Linked DNA regions of Homo sapiens: region 2 is linked to region 1. A link means that fine-mapping ties the variant in region 1 to the expression of a gene that starts in the linked region. Tissue or cell type: whole blood. Region 1 holds a variant in brackets; the other region holds the start of a gene. All regions are shown on one strand. Distances are between the middles of the regions. Region 1 overlaps BIN1 (bridging integrator 1). Region 2 holds the start of BIN1 (bridging integrator 1).

What was found.
Region 2: BIN1 starts here. The variant in region 1 is fine-mapped to the expression of BIN1 in whole blood (TOPMed, PIP above 0.99).

Annotation. Positions count from the first base shown.
Region 1 is chr2:127,077,480-127,085,479 of GRCh38, reverse strand. All of the region lies in intron 1 of BIN1 (bridging integrator 1), which reads left to right. Among named protein-coding and RNA genes, the nearest start is that of BIN1, 26 kb to the left of the region's middle. RefSeq lists enhancers at 314-453, 2,926-3,125, 3,166-3,225, 3,796-3,925, 4,246-4,475. The variant TGG/G (reference allele first, on the strand shown) is at 4,817.
Region 2 is chr2:127,102,245-127,117,534 of GRCh38, reverse strand. It overlaps BIN1 (bridging integrator 1), which reads left to right and starts at 10,381. Exons shown (of 19, transcript NM_139343.3): 1 at 10,381-10,675. The coding sequence starts at 10,592. LOC105373605 (a long non-coding RNA gene) reads right to left here and starts at 10,390. Exons shown (of 4, transcript XR_923311.4): 1 at 9,720-10,390; 2 at 1,099-1,272. RefSeq lists silencers at 10,254-10,313, 10,148-10,442, 10,324-10,533 and an enhancer at 13,253-13,805.

The DNA of each region.
Region 1 (8,000 bases):
GAGCGTGTGTGGGCGTCATCTCACACTGGAGGTGCTTGCTGCATGTACATGGCCGAGCTTGTGCTGCTGTGTGGGGCCCTGAGGGCTGGGGAGCGTTCTTGCCTCCAGATGGAATGCACTTATCTTTAAAGTCATTGTGCCTTTGAGAAGTTGGAAGGCATAGCCTGAAGGGTGGCTAGCCGCTAAGAAGTGTGCTGTGTGTTCTGGGCTTGCTTCCTGGGACTCACTTCCCGGTGCCCCTGGGCTCTGCTCTCCAGCAGGAACCTGGGCCACTTCTCCCCTTTGCAGCCACAGCTGGGGCTGCTGCAAGGGGCCCAGCTGCCCGTAGCTTTCCCAAGGAGTCTGGGACCCTCATTCTAGCCCCTCTGTCCTTGGCTGCAGGTCTGGGTGCCCTCCCCTCCCAACCTGAGGGTGAAGCAGCAGCTCTGGGGTGGGGCGGGGCGGGGGATGGAGGGAGAACAAGGCCTCAATCGTCACCAGGAGACTGCTAGCTTCTGGGTTAAGCACTGCTGCTCTGAAGACGCCTCTGTACGTGTGACTTCACTGGGTTCTGAGGAGGAAGAGAGTTTCCCTGGGCTGGATGAGACCAGGAAGCTGCCCCTTGTGCAGTCACCAGCCTGGGGCAGGTGCCACAGCCCACAGTCAGTGTGGCCTCCTAAGGAACACTGCAATGGGCTCAGAGGGCAGCTGCTAGGCCATGGGTCTGTCTCCTTTCTCACTTCTTGAAGCAGACAGACCTGAGTGATGATGCTTGTTCACCACCACCACAAAGCCACAGAATCTGAGCTCGGTCGCTTCTTCGCTGCAGAGCCAAATCCTTCAGTGCCGCAGCCTTTCCTTTCTTATCTCTAAAGCAGGGGTAATAATCTGCGGCTCTGAGCATGAGGGAACGCTGAAATGCCTAAGAGCAATGAGCATGCCTCTCCACCGAAGGAAATCAGGGTTCCTTGGAGAAATGGCTGATGCCAGGGCTGGGGCAGGGACAGTGCAGGCTGAGCCTGGAGAATCTGCTAGTGCCAGAAAGTAAGGAAGCGCCTGGAGATGAATGAGGACGTGTCCGAAACCTCCCACTGGTCGCACTTGGGATGTTTGAGCATCAAAATGAATCACGAACGCAAAACGAAGGACTCACGATATCCTCACCACCCTCCTCGCAAAGGCAAGACCAGGGGAGGCTCGTGTTTGTGGAATGCCGGGTCACGTGGAGGAGATTGGGTAACAGCGGGTTCCAGCCAAGATGCTATTGCAGTGCTTCTCAGACTTCACTGCGCATACGGTGCGCCAGGGGGACTTGTTAAAGGGAACACTCTGGTTCAGCAGGTCTGCAGTTTTTTTTCTCCTCCAGGCTCTTGGAAGACTGTCATGCAGCTGCCCACAGACCTCACACTGAATAGCAAAGAATGATGGATAGTAAAGGCACTGTGCAAAAATTTCAACAACTTTTTGCCTTGCCACAGTGACCGTGATTGTCCTGCAGATGACTAAGAGAAAAGTGACCTTCCTTTCCAAGAGATCTGGCAAACACGACTCAGACCCGGCGGTCAAGCCTAACACAGCTGTGGTGCGGTGGGAAGGCTCAGCCTCCCTCTGCAGGACTCTTGCCAAAGCAGCCTTTAACCTGAACTTCCTCACAAGGAAACAATCAGATGGATCCAGAGTGTGGGGCATTCTCCAAGTGATTGGTTTGCACTCTTAAAAAGATACCAGTATCACGAAAGAAAAAAAATGGATAACATTGATAAATAGGCATACGGGGAATATTCTGGACTAAAGGAACAAGAGACCCGACAATCAGAAGCAATATGTGAACCACAGTTGGATCCTAGACCCAGACATAAAGGGCATTTGGGGGGCACCCAAGGATATTTGAATGCGGACCGTGTGGTAGATGGTATTTTAAAATACATTTTGGATGTATTGGGGGTGCTTATGGTATCATGGGCATTTTGGAGCATGTTCTTGTTCTTAGGAAATCTGTTGGAGTATTTAGGGGTGAAGTATTGTGGAGCGAAGGTCATCCCAGTGACCCTTCTGCTGCTTACCTTCTGTTGGCTGGGCAAACATACAAATGCAGGAACGGTTTATATATAGAGAAAAGTGACTGGGCACGGTGGCTTGTACCTGCAATCCCAGCACCTTGAGGGTGCTGAGGTGGGAGGATCACTTGAGGCTAGGAGTTCCAGACAAAACTGGGCAACATAGCGAGGCCCTGTCTCTACAAAAAGTAAAAATACTAGCTAGGTGCAGTGGCCTGTAGTCCCAGCTACTCGGGACGCTGAGGTGGGCGGATCGTTTAAGCTCAGAAAGTCTAGGCTACTGTGAGCCATGATTGCGCCATGTACTCTAGCTTGGACGACATAGCAAGAAAAGAGAAAAGCAAAAAAAAAGAAAAAAAAAAAAAGAAAAAAGCAAATGAGTGTGGCCAAGTGGTAACAGTTGATTGGTGAATCTGGGTGAAGGGTAGATGATAGTCCCTGTAGTATCCTTTCCACTTTCTTTGAGGTTTATACTTTGAAAATAAGGAGGTGAGAGGGCCACATGAAATGTGGAGGTGAGTGGTGGGCTTAGAACCTCTTTTCCTCCCTCTGCTCTCTCGTCAGGGCTGCTGTGGCCTCCTGCATGGCACCTAGATTGTTGGAGGCCACCGAGACTCTCCACCCAGAGGTGGGGAGCAGGCTTAGGTGGCTCCACTGTCGGAGTGGGGATGGGGAGGTGTGAGCAGCAGCCGGGAGAGGGGTCCTGTGTGTCTGGTTGCAGGGACAGCTCGCATTTGAGAGATGGGCTTGGAGGAGGGGTTGTGTGCTGGGGAACTAGGTGACTATGGGATCTGCGGGACTGTCCTCAGACTGGCTCCCTCTGCCCCTGGGGGTTTAAGACTCCCATTGTACCCCTTTCACCACTGCCACCCCAGCCTGATGTGTCAGACAGCAGGCAGCATCTTGGGGCAGGAGAGGGGAGGCAGAGGGCCTTGTACCCCTTCCCCTGCCTGGGCGCCCACCATGGCCTGCCCACGCCAACCCTGGTCTCGGTGCAGACTTGTCCTGCGATGTCCCTGGTATCCCCAGCTGAGTGCCTGCAAGGCCTCAGAGCTTGTGACCACGGAGGCCTTCAGCTGGCCATCCTGCCCTCTGTCTCCCCTGCAGGGGCCCCTGGAGCATGAGGGCGGAAAGATCCCCGAGGCCAGCCCTGTGTCATCATCCACAGCTCCCCAGCTTGGCTGACCCGAGCTGTGTGTGGGAGACGACGGAGGAGGAGGGGCAAGGAAAGATTGACAGAGGGACAGCCCCCGGGAGTCAGTGAGCGAGCCTGGACCCAGAGGTGGGGGGCGGGGGTGGGGAGAAGGCTCGCCTTTGTCCTGTTCTAGGGGCCCTCCTCCCTTTCGCCTCTTGGGGTGTCTCCCTCGGGACTGGGCCCAGAGAAAGCCTGGCCGGGTGTCTGACAGTGGCCTTCCCCCTGCCCGCCTGCCTGTCCTCTGTCTGTGTCTGCCTGCCTGGGGAGCCTCGGTGTGAGAACGCCGGGGCACGAGGGTGTGCATCCTGCCTCCGTGGCCCCCGACCGCAGGCTCTGCTGGGAGGAAGGGGCGAGACAGGGCTCACTTCTCAGCCCGCCCTTCCTGTGCAGGCAGGTGGGGAGGAGATGATGCGGAAGGTGAGGGCCTTATGCGTTTTCTGGGGTCTCAGCAGCTGGGTGGTGGGTGCCTGGGAGGGAGATTTGCTGGATGAGGTCCCCCTTCCATGTGTGTGTGGGGGTGGGGTGTTGGGAACTCTGCTGCCACTGCAGGGACGAGGGGTGCCGCTGGCTGGTGGAGGAGCCCCTAGCTTTCTGCCTGGCCCTGGCCAGGACCAGAGTGACTGGGAACGCGGCCCTCACCCCTCCTTCCTTAGGCTTCCCTCCTGGGCCCCTGGGCTGGTCCTTCTGATGGCCTTGGGAAGTGCTTATCCCTGCCCTGGGCCATGCCATTCAGACTGTGGGTGTGTGTCCCGCAAGTGCAGCAGGCCCACTGGTCTCTGGGGCCGAGGGAGGGATCAGAGACCCCAGGAGGGGCTGCTGGGGCCCAGCCGGGTGAGCCCGAAGACCCGGCCCTCCTCACTGTGGCGGCTAGAGCTCCTGGCCCCTCCTGACTGGACGGTGTCAGGCTGTGTCCTGATTTGTTTGTGCTCACCTGCCATCTGTCACATAAGGACACTTCCCTTCTGAGGAGGCGGCCCTGGTGACTTGAAGTGCGTGCATGGTGGGTGGGTGCTGTACGTGGTGAGCTGCTCCTGGCTCAAACAAGACAGGCCTGGGCACCCTTCCTCCTTCTGGGTTCGGTGGCCGTGCACTGCCTGTGCCCCATGACTCACGCTGTGGGTCAGGGCCTTGCCTGCCATGCGGGGGCTGTTGGAGGGTGGCAGGACTCCCTGTACCCACAGGGAGCGGCTGACGCCAGGGCCTTCTGCCCTCTCACTGGGCCATGACAAAGGCCTTGGCGGAGGGCTGGGGAGGGGCACCCACCCACGGGATGCTCCCACTGAGCCCCTGTGGACCCGGGTGCCGGAGGCATGGCGTCAACTCAGTGAACCACCCAGCCTTTCTAGGGAGGAGCCTTGGGAGGGTTTCCTTCCACAGCCGAGGCCCAGCGAGGCTGAACCCTGTGGATGATTGCAGGAGGAGGTTCTGGAGCTGGCCACGGGTTCACACTTTGTCATTCCTGCCACCTGCCCCCCCTCCCTGCCCTGCCCTGGGGTGTCCCCTCCAAGGCACTTCAGCTCCACTCACATCTGGCCTTGGGTTGAGGACATGGTGAGAGGAAGCTCTGATAGGAGGTGATTGGGTG[TGG/G]CACTGATAAAGCTCCTGGGACTGTTGGCTCTGTGGCTGCCTCTGCCGCCTGGGCCTCTGTGTGTCTCGTCCGCCGCCAAGTTTTCAAAGGCTCCCCTTTGTTTATCACAGAGTGAGTGTGCGTGATAAGTGTGTGATGAGTGTAGGTGGAACTGATTGTCTAAGGGGCCCTCACCCAGTAACCCTGGACAGAGTGCAAATCCTGGCCTGTGCCGCCAGACCCTCCTCCTCACCCAACTCCTGCTCATCCTTCAAAACCCAGCACAACTGTCCTGCCCAGCTTTCCTTAGTCGCTGCTGGGCCAGCCCCTCCTGGACACCTGGAGTCCCCTGTGTCCCTCAGTGGTCTGCCTGTGAGCTCGGCACAGGGGAGGCCCCACTAACCAAGTGTGGAACGGATGGGGTGGGAGATCTGTGTCCCAGGGCTCACGGCCTTGTCCCAGCTCCTGTTCTGGGGCAGGGGGTGCCCAGATTGTTTTTCCCTGTGGTAGCCACACCAGGAGCTCCTTGAGGATGGGGACCCCAGGCCACTTGCCTGCGTTCCCTCATGGATGAAATGGGGGTAGGTGCAGTGAGGATGGCATGTGGCCAAGGCCAGCCTCGCCCATGGGTCTTCCCTGGGCCTCGGCCATGCTGTGGCCTTGTTATTCCTCCCATTTCCAAGGCGGGGGCACTGGAGCACTGAGAGCTTCAGCAGCCTGAGGTCTCGCAGAGTGGGGAGACTGGCTCAGCCTCAGGCTTGCTGTCACCCCTCAGGGCTGAGGGCTTTCTGTACATTACCCTTCCATTTTGTCTGGGAGGAGCCTGAGGCTGAGAGGTGGGTTGTTTTGTTTAGGGTCATGTCTCTGCCCTCAAAGCCCACAGCTCAGATGAGCAGCAGCCGCTGAGAATATCTTGTGTGTCTGTCCTGTGCTTAGCCCTGTGTGGGTGTTGGGGACACAGAGATGACTGGAACAGTGTCCCTGACCTCAAGCTGTTCCTTCAGGGTGAGGGTGTGAGGCACACAGGCACATCACATAGCAGTGAGGAAAGCTCTAAGTGGTACAGAGTGTTTTGAGGAAAGGAGAGATCAGGGACAGTTCACAGTGATGTCACCTGAGTGAGGTTTTGAAGGATGCATAGGAGTTTGCCATGTGCAGGTAGAGTGTGCGCGTCTGTGACTTCTGTCTCACATCTTGGGATGCCGTCAGCCTGGACCCGGTGTGAGGGCTGGCGGTGTCAGTCAGGCCCATCCCCCACCTGTGTGAAGGCTGCTCTGAAGGCCTTTTAGGGATTTGCCATTTCTTGAATATCATGGGCCAGGTACTGCTCTGCACTTTATAGACATGATCTTTGTAATCCTTGAGGAGGGTGCCAGTGTTCACTTCATTTTGTAGATTGAGGCTCAGAGAGTAGCTGTCCCTTTTCCCAAGGGTCTTCTCACTGCTGCGTGGAGTCTCACCTGGGCTGGTGTCTCGTTCTCAAGGCTGGAAGATCTCCCCAGTTCTCCAGCTGTCTGTGCAGAGCACACAGCAGTGTTTGGGAACTGGGTCGAGTGTGTGTCTGTCTCTGTACACCTCAGGAGCCCTGGTGGCCAGTGTGGGTGGGGAAGACTGGGGACCTTTTGCTGGCTGAGTGTGTCTGTCTTCCTGGGGAGAGGGAGGGCAGGGCGTGGAAGGGGCATCCTTCCTGGTGCTCTTGCCTTGGGAGCTGGGCAGTCCCTGCCCTGTTTCTGAGAGCTTCTGGCTCTCTCTGGTGGCTCTGGTAGACTTCTGGGAGTTCTTTTCTATGTGGTGGTCTATTCCTCTCTTTGGAGGGGGTGGGGCTGTGGGGTGGGTGCCTGAGCAGAGGGGCTGAGTCACCTACCCAAGCTCTTTGCAGAGCCGGGTGAGGAACCTCCCCAGCTCAGCCCACTTTCTGGGGGGTCCCTTCTGGATGTGGCTGCCAGGGAGGGGCAGCAGTGGGGAGCCTGCAAGTTGTGCAGTGTACATTTTCTTGCTCATGTGGGGGTTTTGTTTTGGTTTTTCTCTCATCCCTGTGTCAGCCCTTGGCATCCAGCTGCAGTTGCCCAAGGGGCTGTGTCCCGACCGCTGTAGCACAACATCATCGGTGGCTGCCTCCCGGTGCCCACCTGCCCCCTGCTGCCACTCTCACTTTCCCACTCCATCCTCTGTGACCTCTAGTCACCTTGAGCAATTCAAAACTCCCCAGTAAGATGCTCCATCTTTCTGGTCTCCTTACCTTTGTTGCAACCTCTCCCCTCTGTCTGAGCTGCCACCCACTCCAGGAAGTCTCACTGACTGCCCAGGCTAGAAGAGATCTCTACCCCCAGGGTCCCACAGCCTTAAGTGTTCCCCCATGTCAGGACAGAGACCCACATCTGATTCCTCTCTGCTGTACCGGCCAAGGTGCCCAAGGCCAGGCACAGAGCAAGTGCTTGGTGAGAGATGGCCAAGAGCAGCTGGCCTTGCCAAGGCTTCTGGGCCTGGCTGGGGGGGGAAGTGCAGCAGGGCAGCACAGGACCTGCAAGGGCCGGCAGGGTGGGAAGGGTCCTGGCTGTGTCCTGGTACCAGGCATCCGTTGGTCCAGGACCGTGGCCTGGGCCCTGGGCCCCAAAGCTGATGTTCCTGGCAGCATGGGCTGGCTCCGGGTCTTGGAAGGGAGGGATGTCTGCAGACCTACTGGCCTCAGCAGATGCTGGGCTGGCCCTTTGCTCCTGGGGCTCCCCACCGCTCCTGGGCCCACCTTTTTCTCCCTTTGCTTTCCACTCCCATCCCCTACCCCCGTTTCCTTCTCATTCTTGTGAGGTCTTGCCCACTGCCTGGGAGAGGCCTCTGCTGAGACATCAGTGTTGGCCTTTCTGCCGCCCTGATGGAGGTGCCTCTTTGGCTGCAGACGGGTGTGTCCCGCCGCCACCCTGGTCTTCCCCTCTGCTCTCCTGCAAACCCATCTGGCACTCCTCATCCCTTTTCTGTGCCCCAGCTCTTTGTCTTTTTCTTCTCCTGCTCTTTCCTACCGTGCCCCACCACCGCTCCTTGCCTCTGTATTTTGTCTCCCTGCTCCCACCTCTCTCTCCGTCATGTGGAGCTCTGGGATTGGAGGAGCAGGGCCCAGAGAGGGAAGTCTGGGAGAGCGTGATGGTCAGCATATGTTCTCAGGGTCCTGGCCAGCGCCCTCCTTTCCTAGAGCTTTCCCCTCTCCTGG
Region 2 (15,290 bases), 28 kb before region 1:
TGAACTGGGGTAGGAGATGGTGCAGGAGGAAAAAAGAAAAGCAGAAATTCATCATGACTGAAGGAGGACCCTGCTATAAGGGACAGTGGCTTTGGGGAGAGCTCCATTTGCTCCCACTCCCACCAGCGTTGGGTGTTGTCGCCTTTTAAATATAACCATTTTTGTGAGTGTATGGCGTTAACTCATTGTGGTTTCAATTTGTATTTCCCTAAAGACTCATGAAGACTCATTTTCTCCCATGCTTACTGCCATTTGTATATCTGCTGTAGTGAAGGGTCTTTTCAAATCATTTGCCTTAAAAAAAAAAGATTGCTTTCCTTATTGAGTTATGACAATTCTTAATTTGTTCTTGGATACAAGTCCTTCATTAGATATCTGTACCATGAAAAGTTTTATCTGAGTGGATTACCTCTTCATTTTCTTAGTGGTGTCTTTGGAAGAGCAGGCTTTAAAAATTTTGAAGTCTCGGCCGGGCGCGGTGGCTCACGCATGTAATCCCAGCACTTTGAGAGGGCGAGGCGGGCGGATCACGAGGTCAGGAGATCGAGACCATCCTGGCTAACACAGTGAAACCCCGTCTCTACTAAAAAACCCCATCTCTACTAAAAATACAAAAAATTAGCTGGGCGTGGTGGCGGGCGCCTGTAGTCCCAGCTACTCGGGAGGCTGAGGCAGGAAAATGGCGTGAACCTGGGAGGCGGAGCTTGCAGTGAGCCAAGATCGCGCCACTGCACTCCAGCCTGGGTGACAGAGCGAGACTCCGTCTCAAAAAAAAAAAAAAGAAAAAGAAAAAAAAATTTGAAGTCTCATTTATCAATTTTTAACGGTAGCTTAATATTCAAAATACAATTGACCTTTGGTCAGTGCGGCGATTGGGGGCACTGACCCCTCACACAGCCGAAAATCTGTGCATGACTTTTGGCCCCCACAAAACTTAACTATTAATAGCCTACTGTTCATCAGAAGCCTTGCTGATAACATAAACAGTTGATTAATACACATTCTGTATATGTATTATATACTGTATTCTTACACTAGAGTCAGCTAGAGGAAAGAGAATGTTATAAGAAAATTGTAAGGAACAGAACATATACTTACTATTCATTCAGTGGACATGGATCATCATAAAGGTCTTCACACTGAGTAGGCTGAGGAGGAAGAGGAAGAGGAAGAGGAGAGGTTTGTCTCGCTGTCTCAGGAGTGGTAGAGGCGGAAGGAAATTCACGTATATGTGGATCCATGCAGGTCAAACTCATGTTGTTCAAAGATCAACTGTATGGATAAACCAAATTTTAAAATAAGCAAATTTAACAATCCACGCCTGGACATTTAGATTGTGTCCAACTTTTCACTATTTCACTCATTGTGAGGACATGACTGCGCTAGTGACTATATTCTAAGGACAGAATCTCAGATGCATATGTTTGTCAGGTTTTGGTTAAACACCTGAAATTGCCCTCCTAAAGTGCACCTAGTAACTTGTAAATGAAGCCCAGTTTCAAGGAACCGGTCAGTCACCTTAGTAGCTTCATAGCTTGTGGGCGTGTTGATAAACAAACGAGACTTTAGAAATGCTTAAACACGGAGATGGGCCATCTTATCTCAGCACTCTGTTTAGAAAGCCATTTTTAAATAGATAATTAGGGTAAATTTCCAGTGAGTATTTCCAAAGTCTGGAATCTTCTACAGGAACTAAGCAGTGATTTATTAAAGAAGGAGTGCTGGGCAAAGGGCTGTTTGCTTTTCTGCACCTTTATTTGACCACCTGGAGAGCCAACAGAGGTCTGCCCCCTGTGTCTCACCAGCAATGCGGGCACATACTAGATTAACTAAGGGACTAACAGCCGCTATGTCATAATAGCAACTATGCTTTACCAAGCTCAATCAGCCCTACCAGGGACTGCCTGGTACCCCTAATCCTCATCGGCAGCCTTTCCTGGTGAGTATGAAGGCCCCACTTAAAGGAAGCAGGCAGTGACTGGCCCAGGGCCACAGTACTCATACCGATGGAGCCAGGGCCTTTGGCCTAAAGCCTGTGTGTCGTCGTCAGCATCTCAGTCTACTACTTTTTAGCCACAGCATAGACCACGCAGGGGTCAAGGTTTAAAGACATGCAGGACAAACACAAGCAAGCTGATTTTTTCCTTTTTTCTTTTTTTTTTTTCTGAGATGGAGTCTTGCTCTGTCTCCCAGGCTGGAATGTAGTGGTGCGATCTCAGCTCACTACAACCTCTGCCTTCGGGGTTTAAGCGATTCTCCTGCCTCAGCCACCCAAGTAGCTAGGATTACAGGTGCACACCACCACACCCAGCTAATTTTTGTATTTTTAGTAGAGACCAGGTTTCACCATGTTGGCCAGGCTGGTCTTGAACTCCTGATGTCAGGTGATCCACCCTCCTCAGCCTCCCAGAATGCTGGGGATTACAGGTGTAAGCCACCGTGCCTGGCTAAGCTGATCATCTTGAAAAAGGTTTTGCTTTTGGAGACTTCACTTGCTGGTGGCAAAAGGAAGTAACTCATTCCTGGAGGCCTTGCTAATATCCTGGAATTAGTTGGGGGATCCACTCACTGGCTCACTCCACAGGTCTCTCCTACACGGTCTGCTGAAATTGGATCTAAACATCTGGGCCCCTTAGAAGCCCAGGGACAGGGCCTTCCAGATGGTTCTGTGGGGAGTTGTCTTTTTGTCTCTGCAAGGATCGCCTCAAGGAAAGCTGGACAGGCTGGGGAGTCTGCACAAGCCTCAGTGTTTGGTGCCAACCCCAGCACAGTGTACAATGTCCTTAGCCTCTTTGCCAACCTTCATTCTGAACTCCTACCCCTTCAACCACCTACTCATACGTCCATTTGCCCAGGACAGTTCTGGCTTACACCTGCTACCTAGGTGTAATTATTTTTTTCCCCTTTCACTCAAAATTGTCCTAGTTTGGACACTCCATATTAATACTGATGGGTCAGGTGCAGGCACTCAGGAGAGACTAGCTTGATGATACCTATAGCATAACAAATGCATTAGAGTTGGCTCTCTGAAGGTCTTTATTAAGATAATGGTATATTGGCTGGGTGCGGCGGCTCACGCCTATAATCCCAGTACTCTGGGAGGCCAAGGCGAGCAGATCATCTGTGGTCGGGAGTTTGAGAACAACCTGGTCAACATGGTGAAACCCCATCTTTACTTAAAATACAAAAATTAGCCAGGCATGGCGGTGGGAGCCTGTAATCCCAGCTGCTTGGGAGGCTGAGGTGGGAGAATCAGTTGAACTTGGGAGGCAGAGGTTGCAGTGAGCTGGGTTAGCACCACTGCACTGCAGCCTGGGTGACAGAGTAAGACTCCATCTCAAAAAAACCAAACCAAACCAAACAACAACAACAAAAAGATAATGGTATATTAGTCATAACACTTCTTGCAAGTGGCCTCAAATTGGCTTTAGCAAGAAAAAAATGTATTGGTTCCTATGGCTGATAGTACGTGGTGGGAGTGGCCAGGATTTGGGCATCACTGGGACCAGGTTCTTAAGAAATGTCATTAATTCCATTTCTCTCTGTCCCTGTTTCTCCGTCTCTTCACTCGTCTTGACCTCAACTTCTAGGCAGGTCTTTCATGTAGTGGGCAAGCTGGCATCTGGTAGCTCTAGACTCACATCCTCCCAACTCTGCTAGTCTAGAAGAAAAGGGAACTTATGGGTCCTACAAGTATAGAGCATCCTAGGAAAGCTCTTCTTGGGCTTTTCCCAAGAGAGCCCAAACTTCATGTGCTCATCCTCAAGCCTGGGCTATGTGCACATCACAGTGTAAGAGACAGGGCTCATCAAAGCACACCCACCGAAGAAGGAGCTCCAAAGGAAAGCAGGACAATGGGCAGGGCACACCACAGTTATAGCATCTGCTACCCACTATAGATAGCCACCATCTACAGAGTCACTTCTGATATTCCAGGGGCTGTAAATATAGTGTTCACTATTTCCACAATAACCTAGAGGTTAATTTACCCCCACATTATAGATGAGGCTTGAACAGCTTGAATAACATATCCAAGGATGGAAAAGTGGTAAATGGAGTAGCTGATTACTTTTCTTTTCTTTTTTTCTTTTTTTTGCGAGACAGGGTCTGGCTCTGACACCCATGCTGGAGTGCAGTGGTGCAATCTTGGCTCACTGCAGCTTCTTGGGCTCAAGTAATCCTCACATCTCAGCCTCCCAAATAGCTGGGACTACAGGAGCACACCACCACGCTCAGCTAATTTTTTAAATTTTTTGGTAGAGACAGGATTTCACCATGTTGCCCAGACTGGTCTTGAACTCATGAGCTCAAGCAATCTGCCTGCCTCAGCCTCCCAAAATGCTGGGATTACAGGCATGAGCCACTGCACCGAGCCGAGGAGCTGATTTCTGAACCCAGGTCTATCTGCCCTTTCCAAAATATCATGGAACTTGAGAGTGGTGGCATTTTACATGTGAGAAAGATGGAGGACAATTTGAGTCAGGGAGCCCTTCCTGAATACCACATCACACTTAACGCTGCCCTGAAATAACTGGTGCTGCCTTAGAATCTTCTGCATCCTGAGCAAGACAGCCCCCTCCCTGTCTCTGTAAGAGGTGAAGTTGGCTGTCTCAGGAGGGAGGTACAAAGCTGGTCTGTTCCAGACACCACAGATGACCAAGTACTAACTGATCTCAGTACAGGACCCACCAGCTAAGTGCCTTCAGGTAAGCCTACTTTTTCCAAGTTTCCATCTATAAAAGGTGAGCAAAAGTTCTATCAAATGCAGGATTATTATGATAGCCAAAATAGTATAAACAAAAATTGCTTTGTAAGATAGAATGATGATGAGGATAGTAATATTGCTAGCTCGGAGCCTCTTAATCAATTCTTGAGTTGGAGAAGAAAATGGGGCAGGTGATCTTTTCTCTCCAAGGGATAGGAGGACTGTCCTTTGCTTGCCTCTGTTCTTCATGGTTTTAAAAAAATCATTTCCCAAATGATAATGAGATATCATTACATACCTATTAGAATGGCCAAAGTCCGGAACACCAAATGCTAGCAAGGATTTGGATGGAGCAACAGGTACTCTCATTCATTGCTGGTGAGAATGCAAAATGGTCCAGCCACTTTGAAAGAGAATTTGACAGTTCCTTACAGAACTAAACACACTGTTACCATACGATTCAGCCATCATGCTTCTTGATATTTACCCAAAGGAGTCAAACGCTTATGTCCACACAAAAACCTGCACATGGATGTTTATAGCAGCTTTATTCATAATGGCCTGAACTCAGAAGCAACCAAGATGTTCTGCAATAGGTGAGTGGGTAAATAAAGTGTGGTGCATCCAGAAAAGGGAACATTACTCAGTGCCAGAGGAAATGATCAAGCCATGAAGAGACATGGAGGAAACTTAGATGCATATTGCTAAGTGAAAGAAGCCAGTCTGAAAAGGCTACAAACTGTATGGTTCCAATAATACGGCATTTATTCTAGAAAAGGCTAAACTATGGAGACAGCAAAAAGATCAGTGGTTGCCAGGGGCTGGGGGGTGGAGGGAGGGATGAACAGGCAGAGCACAGAGGATTCTTAGGGCAGCGAAACTGTTCTATATGATACTCTAACAGTAGACACGTACCATTGTACACTTGCCCAGACCCATAGAACGTACAAGCCAAGAGTGAGTTCTCACATAAACTATGAACTATGGGGGATAATGATGCAACAACGGAGGTGCCTCAGTTGTAACAAATGTCCCACTGTGCTGGGGATGTTGATAGTGAGGGGGGTTGTGCATGTGTGGGGCAAAGGTTATGGGAAATCTCTGTACCTTCTGCTTACTTTTGCTCTGAACCTAAAAGTGTTCTAAAAGCCTGGCCAACACGGTGAAACCCCATCTCTACTAAAAATACAAAAATTAGCTGGGTGTGGTGTTGGGCGCCTGTAATCCCAGCTACTCGGGAGGCTGAGGCAGGAGAATCACTTGAACCCGAGAGGCAGAGGTTGCAGTGAGCTGAGATCGAGCCATTGCACTCCAGCCTGGGGTACAAGAGCGAGACTTCGTCTCAAAAAAAAAAAAATAAAAATAAAGTCTATTTAAAACAAACAAGCAAACAAACACAGAAACATGGCTTCTCCAGCCCTCACCGTTTGGATGCACGGCACACTCCCTCTGCCTGTGTGCTTTATCTTTCTATTCTGCCACACTGAGGTTTCCCAACTATTGCCCCAGGGGACATTGTCCTCATTTCAATTTGTATTTTTAATAGCACTTCTTTCTGATGACAAAAAGAGTACATGTACAAAGTTTGGAAAATAAAAAGAAAAAGAAGTAGGAGAAAAAAACCCCACCCCGAATTGCTCCACCTGGAGATATCAATCACGTTTTGGATCGCGGCTGGCACGATACTGTTTACATTAAACTGTATTATCCTGTTAACATCACATTTCCCTATCATGAGAAACTTCAAGAACATATTCTTTTGGTAAACATTTCATACATGGCCATACTATAGTTTAGTTAATCATTCGGCATTCAGGTGGTGATATTTAGATGTGTTCAGTTTTGCATTATTATAAATAATGTGATGAACATCTGTGTGGTGAAAGCTTTGCCAAATTTTTGAATTAAATCATAGACTTGGAATTATAGGGTGGAAGAATATGGATATTTTGGTTATTCTTATTCTATTACAAGATTGCTTTCTAGAAATTCTGTTATCTGTTTACACTCTCAGAAGTAGAATGTGAGTTTCTGTCTCTATGGTTTTATTAAGTAACATAATTTAAAAAATAATTTGTTGATTTGATGAAAATGAAAACAGAAATGGTATTTCATTGATTTAATGAACCTTTCTTTTTGTCTGGTAAGTCTGACTTTCGAAAACCTATTTATTAATTATTTGAATATCCAATTTTATAAATTGTCTACTATATATTGGGGTTTTAATGTTTTTCTTATGAATTTGTAAGAGTTCTATTTTATTGCCAAAAAAATTTTCCCTAGTTTCTTACAGTTTAATTTTTATGTCAAACTTATTTTCAAAATGGGAATAACTCTTTTCCTGGTAATTAAAATAACGGGCTGTCATGGTAAAAAAAAATAACATACTATAGAAAATTATACAGAAAAAAGTAAAAATCTACATTCTACCCCTTGAACTTGTACTAACATTTTTAGATCATTTCCTCCCAAACTTTTATCCTATGTTTTTATGGTATTTTCTGAAGTTTAAGAATTCTAATTTTTATGTACCTCAAAGCAAGCATTTTAAAATTTCAATATATTCTCCAGTGCTTTTGTGTTTAGAAATATCTTTTTAATCTAGCGATCTGATAAAAAATCACCTCTAAAAAAACAGAGCTGTGATTCTTTTTTTTTTTGAGATGGAGTTTTGCTCTCGTTGCCTAGGCTGGAGTGCAATGGTGCGATCTCGGCTCACCGCAACCTCTGCCTCCTAGGTTCAAGTGATTCTCCTGCCTCAGTCTTCCGAGTAGCTGGGCTTACAGGCATGCACCACAACGCCCGGCTAATTTTGTATTTTTAGTAGAGACAGGGTTTCTCCATGTTGGTTAGGCTGGTCTCGAACTCCCAACCTCAAGTGATCCGCCTGCCTTGGCCTCCCAAAGTGCTGGGATTATAGGCAAGGCATTATGTCATATTATAGAATATTAAGGAAATTAAGGGGGAAAGAAGTCAGCCTTAATGCCTGGACCCTAACACATCTGCTTCCTTTATGCATTGTTCTTTCAAGACATTGATCATGAGCTTTTAATTTATTTTAATTTATTTTTATATGGTTGCAAGTACAATTTCCTATCTTTTCCTTTCCTTCATAATTATGCCCTAAGCATTATTTTCTTGTTGCTACGTAGTCTCGGTAATGGTTGTTTTAAATGATTCCCAATGGCCCCTCCTGTGGCTGTGCTGTCACAGCTGACCCCATCCCTCTAATGAACACTTCCGTTGCTTCCAATTTTTCTGTCAAGCGATATTTAGAAACACCAGAGTCCAGTGAAGCAGAATCTCCCACTGTTCCCTGGGGGCTGACTGTAATGCAATTTGACTTTGCTCATTTCCTCCTTTCCTCAGAGGAGTGTTGGAAGAAATCACTTTTAGAGAATGGTTAGAAAAACGACCAACAGAAAATGAGGAGGAAGGAGATCATGAGCTGAAAGCATGTTGAGCTTTTAGGAGGAAGCTGCTTTAGAAGCCCAGACTGTGTAGGTTTTGCTTTTGTGACTCACAAATCGGGCATGAGTTTATAATAATTTTGACAGATGCTTTTCACTCATGCAGCGCTTGGTGCTTTTGAGGGCATTGGTGCAGGAAGGCTTGATGCAGAATCTCTGCTTATCATTTGCTGTCTGTGTGACCTACATCAGCGGCGCCTCAGTCTGTCTTCCTGCAGAATAAGAATACAGTCAGCCCTCTGCATCTGTGGGTTGGGCATCCATGGATCCAACCAACTGTGGACTGAAAATATTTGGAAAAATACAATAAAAAGTAAGACTACAACAATAAAATAATATAAATAAAAAACAAGGCCGGGCACGGTGGCTCACACCTATAATCCCAGCACTTTGGGAGGCCAAGGCGGGAGGATCACGAGGTCAGGAGATGGAGACCATCTTGGCCAACATGGTGAAACTCCGTCTCTACTAAAAATACAAAAATTAGCTGGGCATGGTGGCACGTGCCTGTAGTCCCAGCTGCTCGGGGGGCTGAGGCAGGAGAATCACTTGAACCCGGGAGGCAGAGGTTGCAGTGAGCCCAGATTGCGCCACTGCACCCCAGACTGGCGACAGAGTGAGACTCTGTCTAAAAATAAATAAATAAATAAATAAAAAATACAGCGTTAACAACTATTTACATAGTATTTAAATTGTATTAGCTATTACAAGAATCTAGAGATAATTTAAAGTATTTTGGAGGATTTGTGTACGCTATATGCAGATACTGTGTCAATTCATATGAGGGACTTGAGCATCCCTGGATTTTGGTATCCACGGATGTGCTGGAACCAGTCCCCTGGGGGATACCGAGGGACATCATGATAATAGGCCCGGAAGAGGACAGACGAACACACTGGGCCATGGGGCAGCACTGAGCGGTGGTGGAAGAACCCCGAGTAGCCGGAGAAAGAGCAGGAGGGCCTTCCAGGGAAGAGGGAATGGCCTGTGTGAACCCAGGCTGAACCTCTCATTCCTGGGACTCGATTTCTCCATTTGTACAAACTGCTTGGTTTGTGGTCTGCAAGAGCCCTTCCTGTTCCTCCAGGAAGCCTCTCAGGGACCTCTGTCCCTGGCCAGCTCTGCTCCTCTGACCGCTGCGGGTCCTGCAGGCCATAGCCCTGGCTCCTGTGTGTGCACCAGACACGTCTAGGCCTCTTCAGCGGGACCTATCTCTCTGCTCAACTCAATCAACAGTTCTTTAGAAATTTCCAGGGGCAGCAAAGTGCTGTAGCCCCTGACATGTTTTAGGGCTGAATGGGGGTGGGTATCAGCAGACTCAATACGTATTTATTAACTTAAAAGAAGTGTCATTGGTCTATTGGCAAAGCTGGTTAGCAATAACCTTATCTTCTCCAGGAATAATGATCACTAATCATTCCTTCCTGCTGGGGGTAGGAGACAACCCGGCGTATGGTGGTGGAGCACCTGGGAGACAGAGGCAGAGATCTCGTTCCTCGATCCCGGCGCGTTGGTTGTAAAGTAGGAACAGTAATAGCACCTACCTCTAGGGCCACGGAGACCGAATGAAATAATGCCTGTCAAGTCACTTAGTACACAGTAAGCACTCAGTAATGCTAGGTTGTTGTTATTATAATAAATTTTTAGCGAACGGGAAGACCAAGCACCGGTTGGTACTGGGCTAGGCGCCGTAGGCAAAGATGTGGAGATGTCCCGGAGGCGCCTAGGGTATCCGGGCGAAAACCCGAGGGCCGAAGGCTGGGAGGAGGCGGAGCGTCGGGCACCGGGCACCGGGCACCGGGCGGGAGGTGAGCCCCTGGAAAAGGAGGGGGCTCCGGGCGCGTTCTCCCAGCAGCCGCGGCTCCTCTGTTCAGGGCCGCGCCCCCTTCGCCGCACTTTCTCTTTGATTTCGAAAGCACTCCTCTCCTCCACCTAGTCTCCTTTCCTGGGTTGCAGGAGATTACTGCTTGCGGGGAAGACCAAGACGCCAGGCCGGCGGATTAGTCCCCGCCCCGGGGCGGTGCAGCTGGAGCGTCAGGGGAGTCCCGCTCGCCGCAGCCCCAGCGCCGCGCGCGCCCCTCCCTCCTCGCGGACCTGGCGGTGCCGGCGCCCGGAGTGGCCCTTTAAAAGGCAGCTTATTGTCCGGAGGGGGCGGGCGGGGGGCGCCGACCGCGGCCTGAGGCCCGGCCCCTCCCCTCTCCCTCCCTCTGTCCCCGCGTCGCTCGCTGGCTAGCTCGCTGGCTCGCTCGCCCGTCCGGCGCACGCTCCGCCTCCGTCAGTTGGCTCCGCTGTCGGGTGCGCGGCGTGGAGCGGCAGCCGGTCTGGACGCGCGGCCGGGGCTGGGGGCTGGGAGCGCGGCGCGCAAGATCTCCCCGCGCGAGAGCGGCCCCTGCCACCGGGCGAGGCCTGCGCCGCGATGGCAGAGATGGGCAGTAAAGGGGTGACGGCGGGAAAGATCGCCAGCAACGTGCAGAAGAAGCTCACCCGCGCGCAGGAGAAGGTGAGCGAGCCGGAGCCCCAGCAGCCGCGGAGTCCCAGCCGCCGCGGAGCCCCGGCCACCTGTCCCCCTATCCTCCGACCCCGGGGCCTGGTCCTTCGCCAGGATCTGGTGCTGTCACCTCTAGAGGAGCGCTTTCGAGGGGCTTCGAGGTCCCCAGGCTGCGTTCCCCGGCGCTCTGGGTGCCCTCTTAGGTTTGCGTCCTCTGTCTCCCCACACCCGGCCGGGGCAGGACAGGGCCCCGCTTTGCACCTTCGTGGCTCGGCTGCACAGCAGTGGCCGGCCCTGCTCCAGGCTCTTCTCAGGCGCGCGCTCCAGGCTACCCCGCTTTGGAGGCCAAGGGCCGGGAGGCTGGGAGGCCAGGTGGTGACCCTCAGCTCTCCAGGCCCATGCAGGCAACCTAGGCTGGGCCGGCGCTCGGGGCGAGAGGGAGTATGTCCCTCTGCCCCTGGGGACACTATTCCCCCGGACTCCCAAGGCTGCTTCTCGAACCGGCACCCACAGTTCCTTCCTTCCCACTGCTTCTCCACTTTCGTTCTCCGTGGGCCGAAGGAGGGATTGGGTTTCCTTTCCCGAGAGGTGCCTGCGGCCTGGAAGCTCCCGCCCAGCCCGGCCCCACCGGGAGCCCAGGGCTACGCACCCCGCAAGGAGGTGCCCTCGCCCCAGCAGGGGCTTAGCGTTTCCGGCGGCCGGGGAGCGGGTGGCGGCACTGGCTTTGGGAGCCCACGGCCGGGTGGGGAGCTGGCCTGGAGGAGGCGCGTGGAAGGCGCCACAGGAAACCCGACCCCTCCTCGCGGAGAGCTGGAATGGGGGATGGAGCCGGGGCCTCCCAGGGTGCCCAGAGCGTGCAGGAAATGCAGAGATTGAGGGGCGGGGGTCTGCACCCGGTCAGTTGTCTATCCCAAGCCACCTCTGGTTTATTGAATTGGATCACGCCAGCTGCTGACGCCACTTCCCCTGACGACTCCAACTCTGAAATCTGAGATTGCAGAATCTGTGTTTCTGCCAGGGTGGCCCCCCAGTGCCCCGCGGCCAGGCCTGCCCCCTCTCCCACCCGCTGCGCGGCCGCCGGGTGGAGGCGCAGGGACAGGCCGGCCTTCCCCTGCCAGGCCTGGTGGCTGTTTATAAACAATGACTTTTGCTTCTGAGACCCGCGGGCTCCCTAAGGATGCAACCACGTGATTGCTGGGGGATGGGGGAGAGGGGGGCGCCTAGAGCTTCCCCATACCTCCCTCAGAGTCCTACTGCTCATCCCTGTGTTTCCTGGCTAAGGAGGTGGGTGGGTGTGCATTGAAGGAAGGGCCCTCAGCCAAGTCCAGGTTTGCCCAGACCCAGCTCCCCAACCCCCCACCCCAGGGAAGGAGGAGGAGGAGGAGGAGGAGGAGGAGGAGGAGGGATTAAAGCCCCAGGAATAGCTGGCTGGGGGCTGGGAAGACTTCAGGTTGTGGGGTGGGGGGGTGGCAGCACAGATGCAGCCACCCCTGCTCCGGGCTGCCATGACTGGGTAATCCATCTGTGTGCCTGGAGCAGGCAGCCCTGGGCCAGAGCCTGCTTCCTTCCCTAAAGGGCCAGGGAGATGAATGGGAAGGGAGGTTAGCTGAGCTGTGTTCCCTGCCCCCTTCCCACTGGTGTCCCACCCCTTCCTGGCTCCCCAAGGCTCTTGGTGTGTCTCCTTTGCCCTGGTTGTCTTTTCTCTGCAGCAGCATCTTTGATGTCATTCTCGGGGCAGTAGGCAAGGGCTGTGTCCCCTCCAAGGAGGTGGTGATGTATCACTGAGCTCCTGAGACACCATCCCTCTCTCTTGAGCCCCTGTTCTGTGGCCACGGGCAGTTGGCTGACAGTTGGTCAGCTAGGCATGCTGGTCTTGGCCAACAGCTGACCTTGCCCATGCCGGGCTTCCTGGGACTGGAGTTGTTTAGTGTTCCAGCTGCTCTCTGCCTGCCGGAGACTAGTTAGGGACCCTCCCCCCATCAGAAACCAAGGCAGCATGACCATCATGACAGGCATCCAGGCCAGGTCTCTGAAAGTAGCCTTCCCCTCCCTTTGGGTTGCAGGCCCTGCTCGCAGGAAGCCCCATGCCTCAACCCACAGCAGCCTCTGCTGTGTGCCTTCCTGTAGAGTCTGTGCCATCATTGGAGGGTCATCCTCAGTGTCTTCTGTTGGTGATCAGTGCCGCCTCTAACTCCCACTGTCAATGAAACTGGAATCCTAGTCTCTTACAGGCAGCCCCACCACTATACCTACCTTGCCTTGGTGAAATCAGTGGGTAATAGGGCAATTCCAGTTTCCCTGTGGCTACAGGAAGGCGTTTCCTGAGCAAGGATGGCAGGAGCTGTGCTGGGAGGCTGGGAGAGTCCTGGCGTCCTGGCGTAGGAAGAAGGGCCCGTATCTTGCATCCACCCTTCACCCCCGGCCTTCCCACATCCACTTCCAGCCCAAACAAACATCCAGACTGTGAGGGTGACAGTGTGGTCAAGGGCAGCCTGCACTCTTGTAGGGTCCCCAAGCCAGCTCTTTTTTGACTGTTGTTACCTGTTGACCCTTCTGCCTCCACCACTGGTCTGGCTGATCCCTGAGGGCACGGCAGGGCACATCCAGGTGTGTGCATTGAGGATGTTACCTGGCCCCAGTCGGTGCTTAGTGAATGTTTTTGAACAAGGGATTTGGGCCTGACGCAGGCTGATGGTGGATTGATTTGTGTTGTTTGTTCTCTGCCATCACTCATTCATCAAATCCTGCCTGGACACAGGCCCAGTGCCTCCTGGGCTGAGTCCCCGATGCTGTCTCAGGCAGGGTGCATGTGTCTGGCCTGTCTGGAGCTTTTTCTTGAAGGTCCCATGGCCTGTGGCCTTGGTGTGAGGAGGGTATGAGAATAAATTGGAAGGGTTGCCAGGGCCTCCAGCATGGCACCATTGCTCCTGGCCCCCTGGCCACTGCCCCCGGAATGCGTGGGGTGCACTGTGTGTGCTGGGAGCTTGAGCCTGTGGGCGCCGTGAGGTCATCTTCCCATTGCGTTTGGCTTGTCGAACCCTCTATAAATGATTGTGTCCATTTTTGGGCCTCAGAAGAGTGGCTAGGCAAAGCCAGTGTAGGGTGGAGCCTGGGTCAGATGACGGGGAGGATTAGAGGTTGGCAGGCTGGGCCCCTCGCGGGATGGGGCGCCTGGGGAGAAGGACAGCTGAGGGGGTGGGGATCTGGCCTGCTGGCCCCTGAAGGCCCACGGCTTGGGAGTCCTCATGGAGCCGGCCTGACGGAGCTGGGCCTTTCTCTGACCACGCTGGGCTGACAGTGAGCACAGGAGGAAGGCTCTGGCAGGGTGGGAGTGTGCATGCTGTCCCTCCCTCCCGGCAGGTCCTGAGCATGCTGGAGGGGTGCAGGCTGGATAGTGGGGAGGGCCAGCTGGGCAGAGGGAGGGCCCAGGGTTGTCAGTGCCCAGCACAGCGCTGACATGCCGAGAAGAGGCTCGCTAAAGGAAGGTGCAGTGGTGGCGATTCCTAGAGCCTTGATGCATGGCCATGAATTGCACTATGCTCAGCTGCGTGGTCAAGGTCTCCTCACGCAGTAGCCACCTTAGCCTCCTCCGGAGGAGCCAGGCCTGTACACCAAGCGTTATATTTGCAGCAACCTCAGAAGCAGCAATGCTACACCTGAGAGTGGGTGCATGGTCCCTGTAATAGAAAGGACAATGGGGGCATAGGCAGGCCCAGCCACCTGCCCAAGTCACCCAGGCCCTCAGTGATGGCACTGGGAGCCCACCCAGAGGCCCTGGTCTCCTCACCTTGGCCACTGACTTTGCAGGGGTCCCGCCCCCTTCCCAGGCCCTAGCACAAAGATGCCCCCCTCTACCCACATTCCCATCTCTGTCCATCTTGGGGCCCATCTCTGTCCTTCTGTCCTTGAATGTCTGAGGTTCTTCCCTGCCGGCTACTGTCTTGTCTTTTTCTCTGTCTCTGTCTGTACCTCCCTGCTCTGGGCCTCTTCCCTCTGAACCTGTTCAGGCTCTTCCTGTATCTCTCCAGTCTCAGCTTCCCCTGGACCCGAGTTACTTATGTAGATGGTTCATCTCACCCTGCAGGGAAGGCTTCTGAGCTGGGCATCTTCTGTGGGTGGGCCCAGGTGTGTGTGGGTTCTTGGGTGTTCGGTAAAGGCGTGTGGGCATGGGAGGTTGGAAGCATGGCTTCCAGACTTCCCCAATCCCCCAGGGGCCCTGGATGGCCTGAGTACAGCCTTCTGGCTCATGCAGGGACCAAGCCAGGCACAGGCTACTTGTCCAGGCACAGCCTACTTGGGAGGCTGCATGGGGCATGGGGAAGGAGAAGGCATTCCAGGAGGTGCAGGCATGGTCCAAGGTGTGGAGAGAGGTGTGAGGACATTGAGGATGCCAGCTCTCTGAAGAGAAGGGGTGCCTGGGTGGTAGATTCCCTCCATATTTCATGAAGTTGTGAAGGCCAGGAAGATCTATGGATCGCAAGGATTCTTGGAGAAGCTGAGGCTTGAACTCTCTGCGCCCTCTTCAAGATCACCACATCGGGGCTCCCTTCTCACTGGCATCTGACCAGGTCCTTGTCCCTGGACTCAGCGTCCAGCCCAGCTGGTCCCTTACAAGCTGTGTGACTGT